Homo sapiens: one gene and its partners. The protein of the gene in region 1 purifies or fractionates together with the protein of each later gene. This does not show direct contact. Each region holds a gene or a part of one and is shown in the gene's direction. Other genes may lie near its edges.

Evidence for each region. The genes of interacting proteins can lie anywhere in the genome.
Region 2: the proteins of RBFOX1 (region 1) and SDR9C7 purify together in Homo sapiens (affinity purification with mass spectrometry; 2 studies listed by BioGRID and IntAct, with this or other methods). This does not show direct contact.
Region 3: the proteins of RBFOX1 (region 1) and SERPINA12 purify together in Homo sapiens (affinity purification with mass spectrometry; 2 studies listed by BioGRID and IntAct, with this or other methods). This does not show direct contact.

Annotation. Positions count from the first base shown.
Region 1 is NC_000016.10:7,512,983-7,520,083, forward strand, and holds part of RBFOX1 (RNA binding protein fox-1 homolog 1), read left to right. Parts: intron 1-5,164; coding exon 5,165-5,407; intron 5,408-7,101. UniProt on the Homo sapiens protein: RNA-binding protein that regulates alternative splicing events by binding to 5'-UGCAUGU-3' elements. Regulates alternative splicing of tissue-specific exons and of differentially spliced exons during erythropoiesis.
Region 2 is NC_000012.12:56,931,409-56,938,548, reverse strand, and holds the start of SDR9C7 (short-chain dehydrogenase/reductase family 9C member 7), read left to right. Parts: upstream 1-4,140; 5' UTR 4,141-4,287; coding exon 4,288-4,588; intron 4,589-7,140. UniProt on the Homo sapiens protein: Plays a crucial role in the formation of the epidermal permeability barrier.
Region 3 is NC_000014.9:94,506,470-94,514,162, reverse strand, and holds the start of SERPINA12 (serpin A12 precursor), read left to right. Parts: upstream 1-4,693; 5' UTR 4,694-4,821; intron 4,822-7,693. UniProt on the Homo sapiens protein: Adipokine that modulates insulin action by specifically inhibiting its target protease KLK7 in white adipose tissues.

The DNA of each region.
Region 1 (7,101 bases):
GACAGGCGCGGTGGCTCATGTCTGTAATCCCAGCACTTTGGGAGGACAAGGCAGATGGATCACTTGAGGCCAGCAGTTCGGGACCAGCCTGGCCAACAGTAAAACGCCGTCTCTACTAAAAATACAAAAAATTAGCCAGTCATCATGGCGGGTGCCTGTAATCCTAGCTACTCAGGAGGCTGAGGCAGGAGAATCACTTGAACCTCGGAGGCGGAGGTTGCAGTGAGCCGAGAGCCTACCATTGCACTCCAGCTTGGGTAACAGGAGCAAAACTCTGTGTCAAAAAAATAAAAATAAAAATAATGAATGAATGAATGAATGAATGAAGTGAACTCCCCACCAGGTGATTCTCTTGCTAGATGAGAAATGCCTTGGTTTAACTCTTGGCTTCCCTAACAACTACCTGTGACTGTGGCCTCGAATAATTATTTCCCAGCTTTGGTCTGCAGCATCTTTGATGACAAGGTAAATTGAGATTAGAGATGCATTGCATGAAAAGTAGGGATTCTGGACCTTGGCACTATTAACATTTGGGGCGGGACAGTCTTTTGTGGTTCAAGGTAGTCGTATACTCTGTAAGATGTTTAGCAGCATTCCTGGCCTCCACCCACTAGATGGCAGTAGCACATCCTCCCTCATTTGTGACAAAACTGTCTCCAGTCATTGCCTAATGTCCTGTGGGGAGCAATCACACCTCTGTAAGAACTACCGGTATGAGGCGCCCAGCACAGTGCCTGCCACCTATTAGGTTTTCTTCTGAGGACCAGTGAGGAGAAGGGGCTGCTTTTCATGGAAGTCTGAGGCCATCATGAACCTTCTGCTCATAAGCCCACTTATGCAGATTTAAAGCCTGTGTGCCTGTGAGTTTACAGGTCAAAGATCTGCGGATGGAAAGTAAATTCCCCAAAAGATTCTGACCCACTGTTTTTGCACCATTTTCAATATTGCCAGTCTCCAAGTCTAGCTATCACCCCTCTTTGGTTTGGAGAGTATACAGGCCCTTTCTCTCTCTTTCTACTTCACTGCCTGCTTTATTTCCTGCCCAAACTACTTATGCAATAATGGCTTCTTAACTGGTGATCCCATATCTAATGACATTCTGCCACAGCTATTAGAAAACATTTTCCACAAAGGACCAGATGATAGATCATTCAGTCTTGGTGGGCTGGGCAGTCTCTGTCACAGCTATCCAACTCTGCCTTTGTAGTACAAAAGCGGCTACAGACAGTAAACAAATGAGCATGGGTGTGTTCCAATAAAACTTTATTTACAAAAACAAAATTTGGGCCAGGTTTGCCTCATGAGTCGTTTGCTAGGTCCTCTCTTCATCCCCCTACCCTATCTCCTGCTGCCAGACTAGGCTTTACAGAGCCCAGAGGTCATTTTTCCAGCACATATTCACTTGGCAAACATTTATAAATGTCCACTTTGCAGCTAGTATGCTGTTGGACCATGGAGATGGGACAGGGAATGTGGCACAGTGTCCTGTTTTCAGGGAGCTCACAGACAAATAATCAGGCTGTGGCAGTGCTTGGTGCTGTGTGAGCTGTGGCCACCAGCTGCAGTGGAGCAGAGGGGATGGGCAACTGACCAGGTTTCAGCATCAAGGAAAGCCTGCTGGAGGAGGGACTCTTGATGCGGACTGAAGGAAGAGTAAGGACTAGTTGGGCAAGGGGGTAGGTGAGGCTTTCCAAGCTGAGGGGCAGTAAATGTGAAGACTTGATGGGGTTGAGAGGATGGAGCTCTTCTCCCTTAACTGACCATAAGCTTCTGGAAGGCATGACCCTTCTCTCTTCAATACAGAGATAGCTCGAAGTCTACAAGGAGCCTTAGCTCTTTTGCAAGAACTAGTAGGAATGGGCCACTTTTCCTGAGCTTGCTCTGCACTGATGAAAAGCCCCAGGGTTATATATGTTCCTGGTGAAAGTATCTTCTGCTGGAGGTGGAGGAGGGAAACCTTTGTCTTCATATGATCATTGTCTGTACCACTGCTTATGTGGTTATTCTGTGCTTCCCTGTAAGAGTTTACACAAGTCTACCTTTCACTTCAGAGATGGGCCAGGTAGAAGGTTGGGGAGGCAGAAACAGATCTTTGAGCAGAAGCTGCCTCTGGCACAGTGAATTTCTCATCAGATGATTCCCAAGATCCCAACATTTCTGGGGCTTTTCATCACCCATAGAGAAGTGGCATCGCTATGAAATTTCTGTACAGAAGGATATGTTCCTTGAACAGCCCAGAAAAAGAAAAGATGCTAGTTTAGTTATAAAACAGCAGAAGTTTTTTTTTTTTTTTAATTAGTCAAGACCCTTTTGGTTGTAAGTAACAGAAAAAGTAGCTTAAAAAATGAGACAAAGGGTACAAAGTGTCAGTTTTGCAAGACAGATACATTCTGGAGATTTAAGTACAGCATGGAAACAAGAGTTAAAAATACTGTATTATATACTGGAAGTGTGCTAAGAGGATAGATCTTAAATTAAATCTCTCCACACACACATACACACACACACACACACACACACAAATGGAGATCATGTAGAAGTGATGGATATGCTAATTACCTGGAATGTGGTCACTTCACAATGTATACATATGTCAAAACATCAAGTTATACACCTTACATGTATAATTTTTATGTTAATGGTATCTTAGTAAAGCTGTTAAAATATGGGACATTTACTGACTTGTGTAACTACAACAAACAGGGATGGTGCTGACTGCGGGTAAAGCTGGATTCAACACTTCAAATGACGTCACTGGGACTCAGTAGAAACCTCTCTGTTCCTCAGTTTCTTCTCTTCATTTTCCTCTAGGTTGGCCTCACGTGTAGGGAGGTCCCCTTCAAGTGGCAGTTCGTTGTTGTTGTTGTTGTTGTTGTTGTTGAGACGGAATCTTGCTCTGTGGCCCAGGCTGGAGTGCAGTGGTGCACTCTCAGCTCACTGCAACTTCCACCTCCCACATTCAAGTGGTTCTCCTGCCTCAGTCTCCGGAGTAGCTAAGATTACAGGCATGTGCCACCATGCCCGGCTAATTTTTGTATTTTTAGTAGAGGCAGGGTTTCACCATGTTGCCCAGTCTGGTCTCGAACTCCTGACCTCAAGTGATCCACCCACCTTGGCCTCCCAAAGTGCTGGAATTACAGGCATGAGGCAACATGCCCACCCTAAGTGTCAGTTCTTGGCAGCTCCAGGCTTATGATGTTTTTACAGCTGCCCATCACCGTGGAAAGAGAACTTCTTCCCCAAAACTACAGCAAAATCCCAGGGTGACTGGGACTCAGTGGTGTGACTAGGGCTTAACGCACTAACGGACTCACTAGATAGATGTGCATGAACGCAAATCCATGGGACTATCTCAGTGGGACCATCTGATTGGCCAGGCTGATGTCCTATGGCTCATCTCGTAGCGACTGGGAGCTGGGTTCAACTGTATCTGCACCATACAGGCTGAAAGTGGGACTGTCCCCCAAAAGGAAACTGGGGCTTTGTTGAAGAAACAGGAGTGGAGACAGACCAGCAGTATCACTGCATGTCTTCTTTGGCTTCCCAAGGATGGACAAGGTTAACTGCTCATGGATAGCAACTCAGCCTCAACATAGGCACACCCTCCATGGCCCCAGTGCTATGGGAAAATGTTAGAAAGAGAAAGAAATGCTCGTGCCCTTTTGTTTCCAGTGGCACAGACATTTGGCGAAATTTGTCTGGAGGAGGGAAGAGCCTGATGGGAATGATTTACTTGTAAAATGTTTAAACTTATCCTAAGCTTAGTTCTCTTCCAAGTGTCATCTTTAACATTCTAATTAAGGTCCCTTCTAAACAAATGCACCAGCTCCGTGTGCTGCTCTGAGAACAAACTTTTTTTTTTTCCTCTCTTCTTTCTGTCATCATGTTTTTGCTGCACTCAAATTGCTTTAGAGAAAGAGGATTTCGGATGTTGGTGGCAAGTACTGAAGAGATAAGGAGAAATTCTGATATTTTTGCCCTAGTATCATTATATGAGGGCCAAAGTCACATCTAATTGACCACAGACAATAGGAGAGGCAGCTATTTGGTGTGCCTAATTGCTAAGTTTTTTTCCTCGCTCTGTCTTTCTGACTGTGTGATCCCATCTCCTGAGACCATGGAAAGTTTAGACCTTTGGGTTACAATTTCTTATGCCGTGTGTGTGTGTGTGTGTGTGTGTGTGTGTGTGTGTGTGTGTGTGTGTGTTGTGGTAGAACTGTGGAGGAGGAGGTAAAGAGAGAGAGCTGTTTCCTGAAATGGAAGCATTTGTATTCAGGTTTTTGTTGTGTGTGTTTTTAAAATTCTTCTGAGTTGGCTGTAATTGTCACACTGCCTGTTTTGCCTAGATCTGAAGAATGAATTGTTATATAATACTCTGTGCTCATAAAAAAATAAGGCAGGGAGGGAGAGGCATTGACTAATGAGACTGAGAGTTAAATCCAATATTTTTCAGAAATGCTTAAAATGGGGATGTCAGAGAGGACAGTCTTTGTCCAAATTAGGCCCTGAATTTGTATCAGCTGCTTCATTTTGGCACTGGGGACATCATACACGCATACACACACACAGACACACACACACACACACACACAACATAACACACAACCACACAGACACTGGGACCATTAAAAGGATACTCCCTATTCCCATTATGTGAGCCAAGTCACATAAAACTTTGATTAAATTCAAATGCTTACATAAATTGTCTCTCCTCTCAAGAACACACACGTTCAATTTAGTCTCTCTTGGCACTTTAAGTATCAAATCAAGGTTCTGCTGTCACTGCAGACAACTAAATGCTCACAGCTTCCAAAATGGGAATGAAATAAAAAGGATCTGCCAAAAAAAAAAAAAAATCAATCTAGTAAAGCCACAGACCCTCATGTCTTTGAATATTAGGCTGGGTGGCTTGGAAAAAGCGACTTTATCTTTATCTTTCCAAGCCTCGGTTTCTGCATCTGTAAAATGGGGAGAAGTGATGGTTACTGTTTCCTTATAGGGTCTGGTGAAGATGACCTGAGATTGGTCCATCTCAGGCTGGTGGCACCATGGTGACCCCTAGAAAGTACGCGGGGCACGATCGTCCTGGGATCTGGGAGGAAGGTTTCTGCATGGTGGCTCCTCATGACGTTCTCTCCCTCTCTGCACCTTTTTGATTTTTCAGGGTAATCAGGAAGCAGCCGCTGCCCCTGACACAATGGCTCAGCCTTACGCTTCGGCCCAGTTTGCTCCCCCGCAGAACGGTATCCCCGCGGAATACACGGCCCCTCATCCCCACCCCGCGCCAGAGTACACAGGCCAGACCACGGTTCCCGAGCACACATTAAACCTGTACCCTCCCGCCCAGACGCACTCCGAGCAGAGCCCGGCGGACACGAGCGCTCAGACCGTCTCTGGCACCGCCACAGTAAGTGGACGTGTTTGCTACGGGTGGGAGGTTATGGGGAGGCGCCCCCAGCCCTGGTAATGGCAGCGGGGGTGCACCCCCATCTACCCAGGGACTCTGGGAAACAGATCAGTCCCTAAGCCCACCCTCATCATACCAGCTTCCTGAAGTTTACCTCATTTCCATGCATTCATTCTTAGCGTTCATTTAAATCAACGGATTATTAATTAATTTCATTTATTTGTAAAGGGGCACATTTATCAATTTTCTATTCCTATAGTTTTGCCTTTCTAGAATGTCATCCCAATGAAATCTCATTTTTTTGGAAAAAAAAAATTTGATGTAAGATAATTTTTCTTCAAGTCTTACGGAGGCTGGGTGTGGTGGCTCATGCCTGTGATCCCAGCACTTTGGGAGGCCGAGATGGGAGAGTCGTTTGAAGACAGGAGTTCGAGAATAGCCTGGGCAACAAAGTGAGACCTCATCTCTACAAGAAATTTAAAATTTAGCTGAGTGTCATGGTGCATGCCTGTAGTCCCAGCTACTTGGGAGACTGAGGTGGGAGGATGGCTTGGGGCCAGGAGTTTGAGGCTGCAGTGAGCTAAGATTGCTCCACTGAACTCCAGCCTAGGTCACAGAGTGAAACTCTGTCTCTAAATAAACAAAAATAAAGTCTTTGTGGAATTATAATTTACATACCTTAAAATTAGTATATTTTTAGGTGTACAGTTCACTGATTTTTAGCATATTTACGGAGTTGTGCGATGATTGCCGGATGCATCTAATTTCGGAACATTTCCATCAGCCTAAATACAAATCTTGTGCCCCTTTGCAGCCACTCCTCATTCATACCTCAGAGCTCTGAACCTCGCTTCTTTACCTTAGCCTAATACATTTGAGATTCATCCAGGTTGCGGTGTTTGTCCCTGGTTTCTTCATTTTTATTGCTGGACCAAAGGGCAGGGGCTAGAAAGAGGCAGGGTGAGAGAATTTTGATGAATAAGGGAACTGTCCTGTATCTTAATGGTGACGGTTACATGACTTTATACGCCATAAAGAGTAAATTTTATTGCGTACAAATGATGAAATGGATTAGAAACAGGCATGTAAACAGAAACATTTTATCATCACTGTAAATGAAAACTGGTGTTTTGATCATTAATCAAATATAACTCTAAATGAAAATATTTATCATAAAATTAAATAATGTTCATTTGTGTGCCACCTAAAGTAATCATGCATACCACAAAACCTGTATGGAACATGCATTTGGGAACCTTTTTCTGCAGAATTCTTTAGAAGCTTGGGAACCCCAATCCTGTCGTCTGGAACATTTTTTGAGTGTAAGGCAATTCTGCCTCTTCGTCCTGTCCCAAGACCTCAGGAAAGCAAGTATTTGTGAAGGAGTTTATGGCTTTGAAGCATGATACATTTCCTGTGATAAAAGAAAACACTGACTAACTTTGCTACTTGCCACCTCATTCATTTGGAGGCTAGTTTTGACGTTTTGTTTTTGTTTTTGTTTTTGTTTTTTTGAGATGGGGTCTCACTCTGTTGCCCAGGCTGGAGTGCGGTGGCGCGATCTCGGCTCACTGCAAGCTCCACCTCCCAGGTTCACGCCATTCTCCTGCCTCAGTCTCCCGAGTAGCTGGGACTACAGGCACCCGCCACCATGTCCGGCTAATTTTTTGTATTTTTGGTAGAGACGGGATTTC
Region 2 (7,140 bases), on another chromosome or scaffold:
ATGGCCGGCTCTGAGAGGCATTTACAGAACCTCAAGGAGCTGTCGGACTAGGCCAGCCCCGAGGTCAAGGAGACGTATGGGGAGAAGTTTCTGATATCCCGTGAGTGAGCTGTGGACAGTGGGGAGATAAAGAAATCCTTGTCTAGAAGTCTGGGTCCATCATTAGTGCCTCCAACAGTATGAGAATCTGTCCTCCAAACTCTGCCTCCCCAAAAAAGTGAGGACATTTATCCCCATTCCCAGGGTGCCATGTGGTCAACTGTTCACCTAAAGGAAGCATCCAAGCTTTCTATAATTGGGACCACTGCCTCATCTGAATCCCTCATTATTTTGAAGAGGAAACTAAAGTCAGAGACAGTGGCTACCAGTGGGCTCATGGGCAGCTGGGTTTAGAGATAGCTGATTTTCATATTCTTAGGCTGTTAGTAGAGACCTTCCATTTATGAGTCCAGATATCTCAAAAAGAGAGGCAGAGGGGGCTTAGAGTGAAACGGATGTTCCTTGGGTGAAGGTTGGGGCACTCTCTGGGGAATATGGATGGATTAGACTTGAGGCATATCATTTGGGGGGCCTGGAATTCTTAGACACTGTCCTCCTAATTCAGAGCTCTAAATGGGAGGGAAGGGATGTGCTAGTACTTTAAGGATCTTTCCTCATCCTTAACATGCATCAGAAAAGCATCTAGAAGGCTTTGGGCAAAATGCAGTACGAATCTATCCTTGTTGACCCACTGCATGGAGCGCTCACTACTCAGCTGGCTGAGACACCAATCTTCTCTACCTCCCCATGAGCGACATGCCTACCTTCCTATGGACGTCACGCTCAACTGGGGCTCTCCAAGGCTGGCTAAGCCCCTGTGAATCCAAGACTGGGGTGCATGGTTGGGTGGAGCTGGGTGATCTGGGTGAGGTGATGTGTCTTGGGGAGAGTAATGGTGTGGTGGGAGGGAGCACTCTTGCCATTTGGATGCCTATCCCAGCTTCTTCCTCATGCCCTCCACAGAATTCCACTGAGATATCACTCAGGACTGGCAACATAGGAGGAAAGAACCAAGGTGTTCTTCTAAAGATTGGGACCCAGTAACGCTCATAGGTGTCCTGTTGCCTTTGAGTCTCTTGGCCAATTCTGAGGAGTCTACACAATGGGAGCGTGTGAGGAGGGGAAGGATCCACAGCCCACACCTTCTCTGCCTCCTGCTTCTTCCCCAGGTGTGCATCAACCTGGCCAGTCTATTACACTCTCTCCATGATGGAAATGGCCTGGAGGAAGTGGATGGGGGCTCCTCTGAATATACCTGTGGATAAGGTGTGGGGCGACAGGGCAGCCATCAGCCTGACCCCTAGACCTCAGGTGCCAGCTCTGGGGGCATTGGCTGGCAGTGGTGTTCTCGATAGGGATTCTGACAGAGGACACAGGAACCAATGTTTGACCCTCTTAAAACCATTGGCTGGCAGTGGTGTTCTCAATAGGGATTCGGACAGAGGACACAGGAACCAATGTTTGACCCTCTTGAAACCATGACCCTCAAAAAACCATCTGGTTACTTTAGTTCTAGAGCAAAAGCTAAAAAGTGCAGCCATGTGCAGCAAGTTGCCTTCTAGTCTGAGGGGAGCATGGGCTGTGAACAAGAGGGAGGAGGAGGCAGGTGCCTTCATGGGGATCTGGGGATAAGAGGGATGAACTCAGGAGGAAATTGAAGAGAGAAGTTGGATTATCCCTGCCCTGTCTCAGCCCTTTCTGCCACCAAGGTGAGGGGCAATTGTTTCCTTTCCAGGAGTGAATCAAGTAGCCTGGGGTCACAGGAGTGCACAGAGGGACAAGGAAGCAATGACATGTCACAAAGGCACTGGCAGGCCTCTTTGTAGCACTTTGTAGCGACCTCTTTGTAGCACTCAGTGACCGGCCCTCACTTTAACATCATTGCACTTGGGAGGGGTGCTGTTTCATGGGGTGAGAAATAGAGTGGTGGGAGGGAGCTCTCAAGTTCAGGGTCATGTACCTCACTTCCCTCACCTCTGTTCTAGTTTTTTTCTGGGACGTTATTCAGGACTCTGGTGATATTAGGAGGAAAGAACCACATTTTGCTGCTTAGGAAGGGAGACCCAATCACAGATAATGGCATCCCACTTCCTTGGGCTCTGAGCTTCATGGCCCACCTGTCAACCTGAAGAATCCACACTTGTGGAAGGTCTTGAGCAACTGGGGGTGGGTGAGCCCACACCTGCTCTTCCTCCTGTCTACCTCATCAGGGTGTGTCTTGGACCTCAGCAGTCTATGCTCTCCCACTGGAGGGAAATGGCCTGGCAGAGGAGAGGGCTCCTCTCCTCTGAGATACCTGTGTGCATGGGGTGGGGATGGGGAGTGCAGCTACCAACCTGACCTATCAGACCTTAGGGGCCAGCTTGGCAAGGAATGCTGTCATCTGAGAGAGGGAGGCATTTCTAGCCCTGGGAAGAAGAGCCTTCTATGTGGTCCTACCTCCCTCACACCCCCCACCCTCATGGACTGTGTGTTTAGTTTGAGGCCAGGGGAACACTGCCAGCATAGAGGCCCAGGAGGTGCTGAGTCAGGCCCAGGCCTGTGCTGGGGCAGTTCTGAGTTATCCTTATGCTAAGTCAGACCCAACTCCTGGACCTCACCTGTGTCCTCAAGGACTGGGATACCCAATGCCCCGGACCTGCTCAGTCTTGAGTGACATGGTCTGACCTGTTTCAGCCAAGACTTCTCTGTTCATTCACCCAGGAGGCAGACAGAGACTGGGAGATTGTTCCCAGATCCCGCATAGGAGGTGCTCTGCCTCAGGTTGGTTATGAAGTAGGTGTGGTTTGCTTTCTACCATTTCCCACCTCCATCCCCTATAAGCTTTAGGTCTGCTCTTTGGGGGTGGGTTCATAATCTGGCCCCCTCCCCTACTTTGTTAAGGAACGGCCAAACCCTGCGGGGCTTTCCCAGGGTGACACCTGCTTTATGTGATTCCACGCTGGTCAGACTTGGCAAATGGTGGATCACAGAGATACATCCTTTGTCCCTTCACACTAGAGAACTTTGTGGTCCCATTTCTGTGTCAGACTCGCTAAGCCATGAAGGTGTGAGCTAGGACCAGGCTCATCCCAAGGAATGGTGACCCTAGATGTTGATCCAAAGAACCACAGAGGCTCCAGCATCATTCCCTGCATCTTATGCAATTCTGGGTGTGGCCCCTCACTACTCACACCTCTGGTTTCCTTATTTCCTTTCCTTTACCACCTTACCTCTTAGCTTTCTGTAAATTATTTGCTAAATTGCCTAGAATCTCTGTTTCTCCTCCAAGTCCCGACCCTGAGAATTTTCTATGTCTCTGGCCCCAGTTCTCTGCTCCTCCTATATCTCATCCCCTCTTACAGTCAAGGCCTCTGCCCAGACAATTCCCTCAGCTGCCCAGTGAACTCATGATCCCTCCTCATCATCTTGCCCAGGGCTGCTTACTGGTGACCTGAGTATGACCCCCACAGGGTGTCAGGCCTGAGTCCCCCAGGTCTTTCTGCTTTCTGGTGGCTAAGCTTCACATGCCAGCCTCCCCTATAGGAGGGCCCTGCTGCCTCTAGCCTCAGGACAATGGAGGTACATCCACCCTAGGAGAAATCCATTGCTTTTCATCCTCTCTCATGATGGAGACTTACCTAAGAATTCCAGAGAGCTGATGACCTGCGACTTGTTTCTCTTGGGGTTTGGAAGGTACAGAACCAATGTTGTTTGTTTTACATTAATAAATTTGTCTTGAGTATTTTCCCTGAAAATAAACTTATTTACATACCTGCACTCACGACAAATGATTTTGATCCCTGGAGACCAAAATCCCCAGGCTGGGTTGGGGGCAGGGTGGGGACAGGATTTCTAGGGGAGCTGTCTGGGGTGAGTCCTCATCTTTCATTTGCCTGCCTTACACCGCCTGGGTGAGCCACCACTCATCACCAACATTACAAGTGGATTATTTCCAATTCTTGGCAGCTTTACCCATCAGGGCAGGGGGAGAGAGGGAGGCAGCTACCAGGGCTGTCAGAGGTGACAAGGCTTCAGGTTGGACTTGAATTTCTTGCATCTGGGCTAATTGCTGTGGTGATGCATCCACCTATAAAAATTACAGCGTGGCTCACCCAGGGACCTAGATTTGTTGCAAGCTGTGGGAGGAAGGAGAGTTCTTCTTCCAGGTGGTTTCCTGCAGACTGCCTGCTAGGGCTCAGAGGACCAGCTTCTTCCCTGCTGTCTCCTGAGCCCAGTCCCTCTTGGCCATCACATTCCCCTTGCCCTATGGCGGCCCTCACAGACCTCTCATTTATGTATCGCTGGTTCAAGAACTGCAATCTGGTTGGCAACCTCTCAGAGAAGTACGTCTTCATCACAGGCTGTGACTCTGGCTTCGGGAACCTGCTGGCCAAACAGCTGGTTGATCGGGGCATGCAGGTGCTGGCTGCTTGCTTCACTGAGGAGGGATCCCAGAAACTTCAGCGGGATACCTCCTATCGGCTGCAGACCACCCTACTGGATGTCACCAAGAGCGAAAGCATCAAGGCGGCGGCCCAGTGGGTGAGGGACAAAGTGGGCGAACAAGGTGGGGCGAATTACATTCTTTGGCTTTCTTGGTTTCTCCTTCTTCCTCTTCCTCTCTCCCGAAGCATCTGACAGTATCAGAGACCCTGATGTCCAGATTGGGTGGGAGGGGTGATGTAGGGAAAGGCCCCTGCCTCAATCTGATTGGAAGCCACTGCATGGTTTGGCCTGTTCACATGAAGGGGTGATTTCCCAAGGAAGTTTTCTGTCCTGGAAACTCAGAGAAACGGGAAAGAGGTCTCAATAGGAAGCGAGGGGGGAAGATGTGTTCTGTGTGTCCAAACCTCTAAAAATGGACGTGCCTGGCTGGGCGTGGTGGCTCACGCCTATGAGCCCAGCACTTTGGAAGGCCGAAGTGGGAGGATCATGAGGTCAAGAGATCGAGACCATCCCGGCCAACATGGTGAAACCCCATCTCTACTAAAAAGTATAAAAATTACCTGGGTGTGGTGGCACGTGCCTGTAGTCCCAGCTACTCAGGAGGCTGAGGCAGGAGAATCACTTGAACCCGGGAGGCGGAGGTTGCAGTGAGCCAAGATTGCGCCACTGCACTCCAGCCTCGTGACAGAGCAAGAATCCCTCTCAAAAAGAAAAAAAAGAAAAAAAAAGGATGTGCCTCTCTGATGTTTCAGCAGTCCTAACCATCAGCTCCTGGGGAAATACAAACACATTTCTTGTTGGGATCAGGATGGGGGAGGGGGAATGAGACAGGAGGCTGGATCCCATGAGTGGGTGCAGTTTGTCTCCTTGACTATGTCAGGCAGGGGAGAAAGAGATCTGGTCTCTTCTTGACATCATGGTGGGTGTTGATTTGACTTCAGGGCAAGTATGTATGTCACAGTGGCTGCTCCTATTGGGAAAGGAAGCTGTGGACTGGGGCTGGCCCAGGACTGTGTGGGGACCTGCCTCATGCACTTCCAGCACACAGGGTGTGGGCCCAGGAACAGGAGGAACAGGATGGCTGAGTTGCAGAAGCAGCAGACTAGAGGAAGTCCTCCCTCCTAAAGGAACTAGTCTGGAGCCCATGCGCAGGTCAGGGCAACAGAGCCCTGGAGCCAGGGGGATCTAGACAGTAACTCCCTGCTTGATTCTTCTCCTTAGCACTTATCACTAGTCAATGTACAATAGATTTTACTTATTTATTGTCTGTTTCCTCTGCTAGAATAAAGCTTCCTGGGGACAAGGATTTTTGTCCCTTTTATTTACTGTACATCCTTAGTACCTAGAATAATGTCTGGCACCTAGTAAGGTACTGAATAAATAGATTTGAGTGAGCTAATTAATTAATAATTCAGCAAGAGTGAGCCTCTGTCTTCAGCAGGCTGTCTCAGCCAGTTCCCTACATTCAGCCTTGAGCCACTTGCCTTAATACCTCACTTAGCATGTGAGTTTCCTGTTGCTATTGTAACAAATAACACAACTGTGGGGTCTGAAGACAATACAAACATATTATCTTGTAGTTGTGGAGGAGTAATGTCTAAAATAGGCCTCACTGATCTAAAATCAAAGTCAGCAGAGCTGTGTTCCTTCTAGAGGCTGTAGAGGAGAATCCGTCTCATCGACTTTTCCAGCTTCCAGAGGCAGCTGGCATCCCCTGGCTCCTGGCCTGCTACCTCCATCTTCAAGGCCCGCAAGGTTGGGCCCAGTCTTTTTCACACTTTTCTCAAGCTCTCTGATTCTCCGGTTTCTGCCTCTTTCCACTTAGGACTTGTGATTATATTGGGCTCACCAGGTTAATCCAGGATAATTTCCCGTGTTAGCTTCCTCCCTAACTTTAAGGACAATTAATTAGCAACCTCCATTCCACCTGCAACCTTAATTCCCCTTTCCCATGTAATCCAGCAGATTCACAGGTTCCAGAGATAATGAGGATGGGGACATCTTTGGGGGACCATTATTTTGCCTAAGCCACTTGGCAATATCCTGGTCTAAGAAACACTGGGAACTGGGGTGGGTAGGGGGATGGGAGAGGAAGTTCTTTCATGCTTTCTCATTGCTCCTGAATGGAGAAAGGCAGGGAGACTGGGTAGGGGCATGGCTTGGGTGGGGACCCCAGCCCTAGAGGGAGGGGTGGACTAGGATTTATGTTTGTGTTGAGACCTGCCCTCAGGAGACAGTGGGATGCGCCTGCAGAGTATCTTGGGGCTGCTGAGGCTGGGGCTGTGGTGCGAATCACCAGGCAGTAGGACTTGGGGAATCCTTGCATGAAGGAGCTGGAAGGGGTCCTTGAGGAGTGTTTAGAGGGGTTTACAGTAGAACCCCAATATGTAAAACAAATGAAAGGAGAGCTTCTCCTGCATTTTCCTCCCCCTAGAAGGCTTGCAAAATACAGCCTGGAAACAACTGTTTTAGTCTAATCTGATGAAGAGCCTGAGGCCCAGAGAGGGAAGTGACTTGTTCAAGGCTGGAGGTAAAACCAGGACTGGACCTGAAGCTCTTCAACCCTGGGCCCCTGCAGAGTTGAATGACAACACTTAGCATTATTTCTTTCCATTTGTACCAACCTAATTGAAATATCTCAAGGATAGTCCTCATCACATTTTCCATAATTAT
Region 3 (7,693 bases), on another chromosome or scaffold:
AGCCGCCATGGAGTACCTAAGCGGCACAGTCCAGGCACTGTCCCAGGGCTTTGCACGAATTATCTCAGCCTCTCGACAGTGGGGAGGTATGATTGCCCTAATTTCACAGGTGAGTAGGTTAAGACATAGATGTGCTGAGATGTGGGGTGGCCTTGGGAGTCTAGGCCCGCACCATGCTGCCCTTCTCAAACCCATACCCCTTCTCGGACTGTGAGGTCCCCAGGGAGCCACTGGAGCAACCTCCAGGCTGTTCATCCAAGGAGGGAAAGCATTTTTGGTCTTGGGAAGTGATGCAGAGGGGCTGATTGGCTGAAGTCCCACTGGTCAGGTTATTCTGGCATTTGGAAACACCACTGGAAGACAATAGCAGTTGTATGGTGTTTAGGTTTTCATCCCAACACCGCAGATTTCAAGCTGAGCACCCAGTAATTTTTTAAAAATTCATCCCAGAGTGGAGGAAAATGAAAGCCATTGGTCCAGCCCTTGGGGACCCCTGCAAAATTCCGAAGTCACAGAGCAGCCTGTGCATGGGCGGTTATGGTTTACACCACACCTTTTACAGTCACTACTTTAATTTATCCTCCCAATGGATTTCTCAAACATTTCCTCAGTTTTATGGGTGAGGAAATCAAGATCCTGAAAGATGAAGTAACTTGAGGAGGGTTGCACGGCTGGGAAACAGCAGCCATGGAGCCTGAATCCAGATTTTCTGTCTCTACATAGAATTCTCTATAGTCTTTTCCCGCTCTCAGGTCCTCCCGCTCTGCTTCAGATTCTTGAGTCTCTACTGTTTCTTGGTTTGTACTGCTTAGAGATATCTGATATCAGCCATTTGCATCTTTGTATTCTCTCTCTGAAAGTAATTGTCCTTCATTTTGTCTTGGATTATAAAGGCAGTTCTCTGTAAGAGGACTGTCTGGTATCAGCAAACAAGCCGTGGCAACTCAGAGTATGCCCTTGCAGATAAGGGTGACCTGCTTACCAGCCCACACTTGGTTTCTATCAGCCTGCTTTCGCTTATCCTGGAAGGAAAACTGAAAACCTGGATGACTGAAGGGAAACTTCCCTTCTTCCACCTGCATGGTGAGCCGTGGGATGGCTGCTTCCAGAGCTACCCTCGGTATCACTCCTCATTCTTATGCTAGTGGCTTGAGCTGGTAATAGAACCCACTGGGGAATGTGTGGAACATTCTTGGAGAATAGATGTGTGGGCTTGCGTATTTCTTCACTACGTCTTCTCTGTGACTTGGCCCTTTCCTTGGTCTTAAGTAGACAACCACTCTGTTTTCCCAAATTTCTGAAAGCTCAGAAATGAGCTTTTCCCATCCTTAACTATATAATAGCACACAAAATAGTCAGTAGTTAGATGTGAACAGATAACCCTATTTGGGTAACTACTGACTACCCATCCAAATTCCTCCTGAATTTCAAGGATCTCAGCCATCCTTAACATTTGATTTTTGCTGTCTGATCCATTCTTGATAACACATGTTTCATTTGAGAGGCAAGAATTGTCCTCCTGGGCTCCAGCAGTGTTAGGCACACAACACCCTCACTCTTGATGCTGGAGGATGAGAATGGTGAGCAGAGTGTGACTTGGATGAACAGAATCAGCTCCCTGTCATCATGTTTATCATTAGTAATGCCCATTAATAGTAATTAATTACTATTTTATTAACAACTATTATAACTATTGCTATGATTACTACTAATTAGTTTTAATTGATCCTCTCCACATGGGCCTTTGCATTTGATAGCACTGCTAACAATCTGATGAAATGAACAAAGCAGGTACTTCAGTAGTCCCATTGGGCAGATGGAAATACTGAGGCACAGAGAAGTGAGGTGACCTGGGTGAGGTGGCCCAGCTTGCTGTGGCTGTAGGACCTGTGCTCCGCCTCAATGTCACAATGCCCCCTGAGAGGGGACACGTGAGTGGGTGGGGGATGGAGCTGCGGCTTTTTTTGTTTGGAGGCCTTGATTTGATTCAATATCTGCCTCTCGTGGGTGCAAGTGGTGTTGAACTCACCCCTCCACAGAACTCTTGTTTTGTTTTGTTTTGTTTTTGAGATGGAGTATCACTGTCACCCAGGCTGAAGTGCAGTGGTGCAATCTCAGCTCACTGCAACCTCTGCCTCCTGGGCTCAAGCAATTCTCATGCCTCAGCCTCCCGAGTAGCTGGGACCACTGGTGCGAGACACCACTCCCAGCTAATTTTTGTATTTTTAATAGAGATGGGGTTTTACCATATTGGCCAGGCTGGTCTCAAACTCCTGACCTCAAGCAATCCACCTGCCTTGGCCTCCCAAAGTGCTAGGAGTACAGGCGTGACCCCCCAGTGTCTGTCCCTTCCCTGGTCTGTGAGCTTATGAGGACTTGTGTTATTTCTCTCTCCCCCACACCTGGCTTGCTGCCTGGTACATTATAGACATTCAATCTGCTTTTCAACTCAAGTTCTGCCTCTTTGGAAGGAAGCAGGAAAGGAGGATGAGGGAAAGGCAGGTGAGAGAGGTGGGTGGGACACCTTCCAAAGGAGAAGTCGAATGGCTCAGAGATGGAAAACTGAAGGTGGTGTCGGTTCCTGTTCTGGGCTGCACGAACCAACCCGACAAATACTAGAGTGAGCCATCCCAGGAGCCAGCATTTAACAGCCGCAGCCTTATGTGAGGCATGCAGACAGTTCCAGAATTTCCTTGATTTCTCCCAAAGTTTCTGCACTAGTTGTATCCACATATTTTTTTTCTGCTTTTATATTAAGAAATTCTTATGAAGCTGCACATCCATTAAATAACCGTGTGACATTTGACAGATGACTCACTATCCCAAACCTCAGCTTTCTCATCTGTATAGTGTGACAATGGTCCCTCACAGACTTGTAAGAATTAAATGTGTGTGTGTATATATATATGTGTGTGTGTGTGTGTGTACATGAGGTGTGCACAGAAGTACACATGCTGCTGAAATCAAATTGGTGGGCTACCTGAAAATGCAGAAAAACATTAAATTATGGGCTTTTTTGCAGTTTGCGATTTTCCTTCCATAAATATTTTTCTGAAATGCTCTTTTTAAATTTCAAGAGTTTTTGGGGTACAGGTGGTTTTTGGTTACTTGGATTAAGTTATTTAGCGGTGATTTCTGAGTTTTAGTGCACCCATCACCTGAACAGTGTACACTGTACCCAATATGTAGTTTTTTATACCTCACCACCCCCTCCCAACCTTCTTCCCTGAGTCCCCAAAGTCCATTATATCATTCTTATACCTGTGCTCACAGCTTAGCTCCCACTTATGGGCAAGAACATGCAATATTTGGTTTTCCATTCCCGAGTTACTTTAGTTAGAATAATGGCCTCCACCTCCATCCAAATTGCTGTAAAGGACATTATTTCATTCCTTTTTATGGCTGAGTGGTATTCCATGGTGTGTATATACCACATTTTCTTTATGGATTTATTGTTTGATGGGCACTTAGGTTGGTTCCATATCTTTGAAATTACGCAACATGTGTGTGCATGTGTCTTTTTCATATAATGATTTCTTTTCCTCTGGGTAGATACCCAGTAGTGGGATTGCTGGATGAAATGGTAGCTCTCCTTTTAGTTCCTTAAGGAATCTCCATACTGTTTTCCATAGGGGTTGTAGTAATTTACATTCCCACCAGCAGTGTAAAAGTGTTCCCTTTCACCACATTCATGCCAACATCTATTTTTTTTATTTTTATTTTTTACTTTTTAATTATGGCCATCTTGTAAGAGTAAGGTGGTATCTCATTGTGGTTTTCATTTACATTTCCCTGATGGTTAGTAATGTTGAGCAAATGCTCTTTTTTTATATCCTCTGTTGTTCTGCTCTTCTACCAGCATCTAGATCTGGCTTGAATGACATTTAGCACGGACTTGGGTCTATATTATTTTAAGTGAAATTGATTGACAGCATGACTTCCAATAGTTTGGCTCTCTCAGGCAACCACAGATCCAATGCAGTCTCCTATTGCCCATTGTACAGGTGAGTACACTGAGAACCAGAGGAAGGGATGGCTTCTCCAGCCACCAGGTGCATTATGAGTCACCTATGTCTGGTACCCAGACCACAGGCCCAGGCCCTGAGACGTCCCAGAGCTCGGGAGTGGGGTGGGGTTGGATGGATGGGCTGCCTGCTCCCAGGCTGCACCTGGGAGGTGAGAGAGGGCCATGTGAACATCTGTGCCAGGCGGCTGGTATTCTATAGCAGTGCCAGGGTGCCCACACCCATTCCTGTCCTGTCCCAGGGAAGGAATCTGGGGTGGACGATTCTGCTCAAAGATGATCACAGGGATCAGGGCTGTGGAGCTGGGAGGGGATGGCGTGTGTCACTCTGGTTTCTGGTGCACTCACTTTTATGAGGTTTACTGGGTGCCAAACACTCAGGTCCTAGCAAGCCAGGCCCTCATCAGTGAATCTACAGAGCACCTTGGGTGTACCTAGCACAGTGCCCCTTGCTATTTGGGATGGGAGAGAAAAAGTAGGCCTGATCTTTCCCAAGGGGTGAGGAAGGGAACTCCCAGACGCATTGCTCTCTGAGTGAGACACTTGGCAGGGCCAGTTGGCCAGGCTGATCCTGGGAAAGGGGTGGAGGTGGCAGAGGCAGGCTTAGTAGGTCGTTGGGCAGAAGTCCACCCAGTTTGTAGATAAGGCTTGTGGGGCTGGGAGCCTAGAGGAACATACCTGGAACCTGAAGGCTGCAGGACCAGGACCGAAAAAGGACTAGGAGGCTGGGATCAGCAACAACTGGGGAAGGCCAAGGAAGACTGACCTGAGGGGAAAGGAGAAACTGGGGAGGTGAGGTTAGTCCAAGGGGCAGTGTGTGTGTGTGTGTGTGTGTGTGTGTGTGTGTGTGTGTGTGTGTTGTCTGTTTCTCTGTCTTAGAGAAGACAACCAAGGGCCAAGGTGATCACTCAAATAGACAGACATTCTGCGTCCTTCTCATGCCTAGCCCTAGGGCTGGATCACCAGTCTGGCCAAGAGTTCCATGGGTCTGTGCTGGCTGCCAAGATGCTGTGGCCATGCTTTCATTTATGGTCTACCAGAAAGCTATCCATGGAAAAAGGGATTCAGAACCAGAAGACCTGATTTTTGAGTCCTGAATCTGCTAACTGTGCAGCTATAGGAAACTCAGATTTCTCATGTGTAAAAATGGGTCTAGCAGCACCCAAACTTGCAAAGTTGGTATGAAAAATACATAATGTCTATGAATAACCGTATCTACTAATATGTGCATGGAAGTACCCTGTTCTGCAGAGACAAAGACAAAGAAGAAAATAAGATGAGGAAAATCAAAGCTGGCCCCCACCCACAATGTTTCAATGCATATTTACCCAAATTTTTTACTTTTTGCTGATTGAGAAACACATGTGGTTACTTATTGATATATATAAGAACTCTTAATTGTTAAGAACATTAGCTCTCTATCTTGTACACATGTTCCAATTTGTGATTCCAAATTTTACATATTCTGTAGAGTTTTAACACGTTGCAAAAAGATGGTATATCCATATATGCCATCTTTTCCTACATGGTTTCTGGCTTGTGTATCACACTTAGGAAGTTCTTTTTCACTCTAACATTATGAAAAGGTTTTATTCCAACACTTGTAATTTTATTTTTGAAATGATTTGTTTGTTTCCTAATAGCATTTATGGAATTGTTCACCTTTTCTCGAATGTTCTGAAATGCCATCTTGAATTTTTTACTATTTACAGAATGCTTCCCATTAAAAAAAAATTTTCTAAATTTTCTATTTCTCTCCTTTTATTTCTTACTTGTTTAGATTTTTGTGTGGAAAGATTTTCAACATTTTGTACTAGAAGCTTTTTAGGGTAACCTAGGATCTTACCGGAGATTGCTTAAAAATATTTTCTTTCAAAATCAATTATTATTAATTTTAAATCATTTATTGATTAAGCTCCCCAATTGGAGTTGAATTCAATGACTGAAAATACATTGCATTTACTCAGTCTTTGCCTTATTGCTTGGAGGTACAGTATAATTTGTTCTAGTGGGATTTGGGCTTTGCAGTGTTTCACACTCTTGGTCACTGGCTCCCATAGCTGTCTGTCACAAGCATCAACTGGGGATCCTGTGGAAACCAAAGAAGAGTGGGGACACCCAGGGAAATGCAAAGTATGATCTGGGATGGTGGCCAGGAATCTCTTTCTCTCTCTCCCTTCTCTACTATAAATGGACATCTGGGTTGTTTCCACTTTAGGTCTATCACATAAAGCTGCTATGGACATTGCAGTACATGTCTTGGTAAACCCACAAGCACTCATTTCCTGTTGGGCATATACCCTGAGGTACAATGAATGGGTCAAAGGGTAAGCATATGTTTACCTTTTATAGATCCTGCCAAGCAATTTTCCAATCAACACGTTGGTGTCGGTTTGCACACCCACCCGCAATATAAGAGAGTTCCACTTGCTCCACGTCCTCGTGTGGCTGGTCCTTTTAATCTGAGCTATTCTAGTGGGTGTGTAGTGAGTTCTTCTTGTAGTTTTGTTTTGCATGTTTCTGATGATTAATGATGTCGAGCACCTTTTCAGCTGCTTATTGGCCATTTGGATATCTTCTTTTGTGAAGTATTTGTTCATGTCTTTGCTTAGTTTTTAAGTTGTTGTCTTTTTTCAGTCGATTTGTAGAAGTGCTTAAAAACAGGCATGAGCCTTTTATCAGACACAGACATTACACGTACCACTCCCAGCTTGTGACTTGCCTTTGTACTGTCCTAGGTAATTTTAGAGGAACAAGGCTCTTAATGTTAATGAAGTTCCATTTATCATTTTGTAAAAATGGTTAATACTTTCTGCCTATCTCATGGTCACAAAGATTGTCTACTATTAATATATTTTCTTCTAGAAGCTTTATCATTTTGATTCTTGTGGGTTTTGAGGTTAAAAAATATTAAAGACCAATAGTTTCATATAGTCCAATCTAATACCTTTCACATTTAGGTCTGTGACTTCTCAAATTAATTTTTGTATGTTGAGTAAAATAGTCACTATTTATATTTTTCCTGTATGGACATCCACTGGTGTTTTGTTGTTGTTGTTGTTGTTTTCATCATTCATTGAAAGGATCATCCTTTCCTTTGAACTGTAGCGATGCCCTTGTCACATATCAGGTGACTTCCTGTGTGGCTCTGTTGGATTCTCTAGTCTGTTCCATTGGTCAGCTTGTCTGTCTCTGTTCCAATACCTTAATACTGTGGCTTTACAGCCATCTTGATACCTGGTGGCTGAATGCTTTAAAAGACCTGGGAATCATCAGGTGGGAATCACTTGCTTTGGAGTGGGATTCTCAACCTTGAGTACTCATTAAATCCCCTGGAGAGAAGTTCTTAAAGGCACCCTCACCCAGGATTTATCCTGCATCAACTAACTCAAAATCTCTAGAGGAATGTTCTGAAAATAGGTATTTCTAAAGCTCCTGGATGATTGTAATGCACTCCCAGGATGGAAACAACTGCTTTAGAAATAGGTTATTCCCATTTTGCAATTAAAGAACCAGAAGCCCAAAGTCACATATACAATTTCTGGAGGCATTAGATTGTTCACTCACTTTCTCCAGGATGCAAAATCCTTGATATACTTCTCTTGCTCTCAGTTTTCTCCTAGAGAACACCTACTTATCCTTCAAAACCCAGCTTAAGAGTGCCCCATC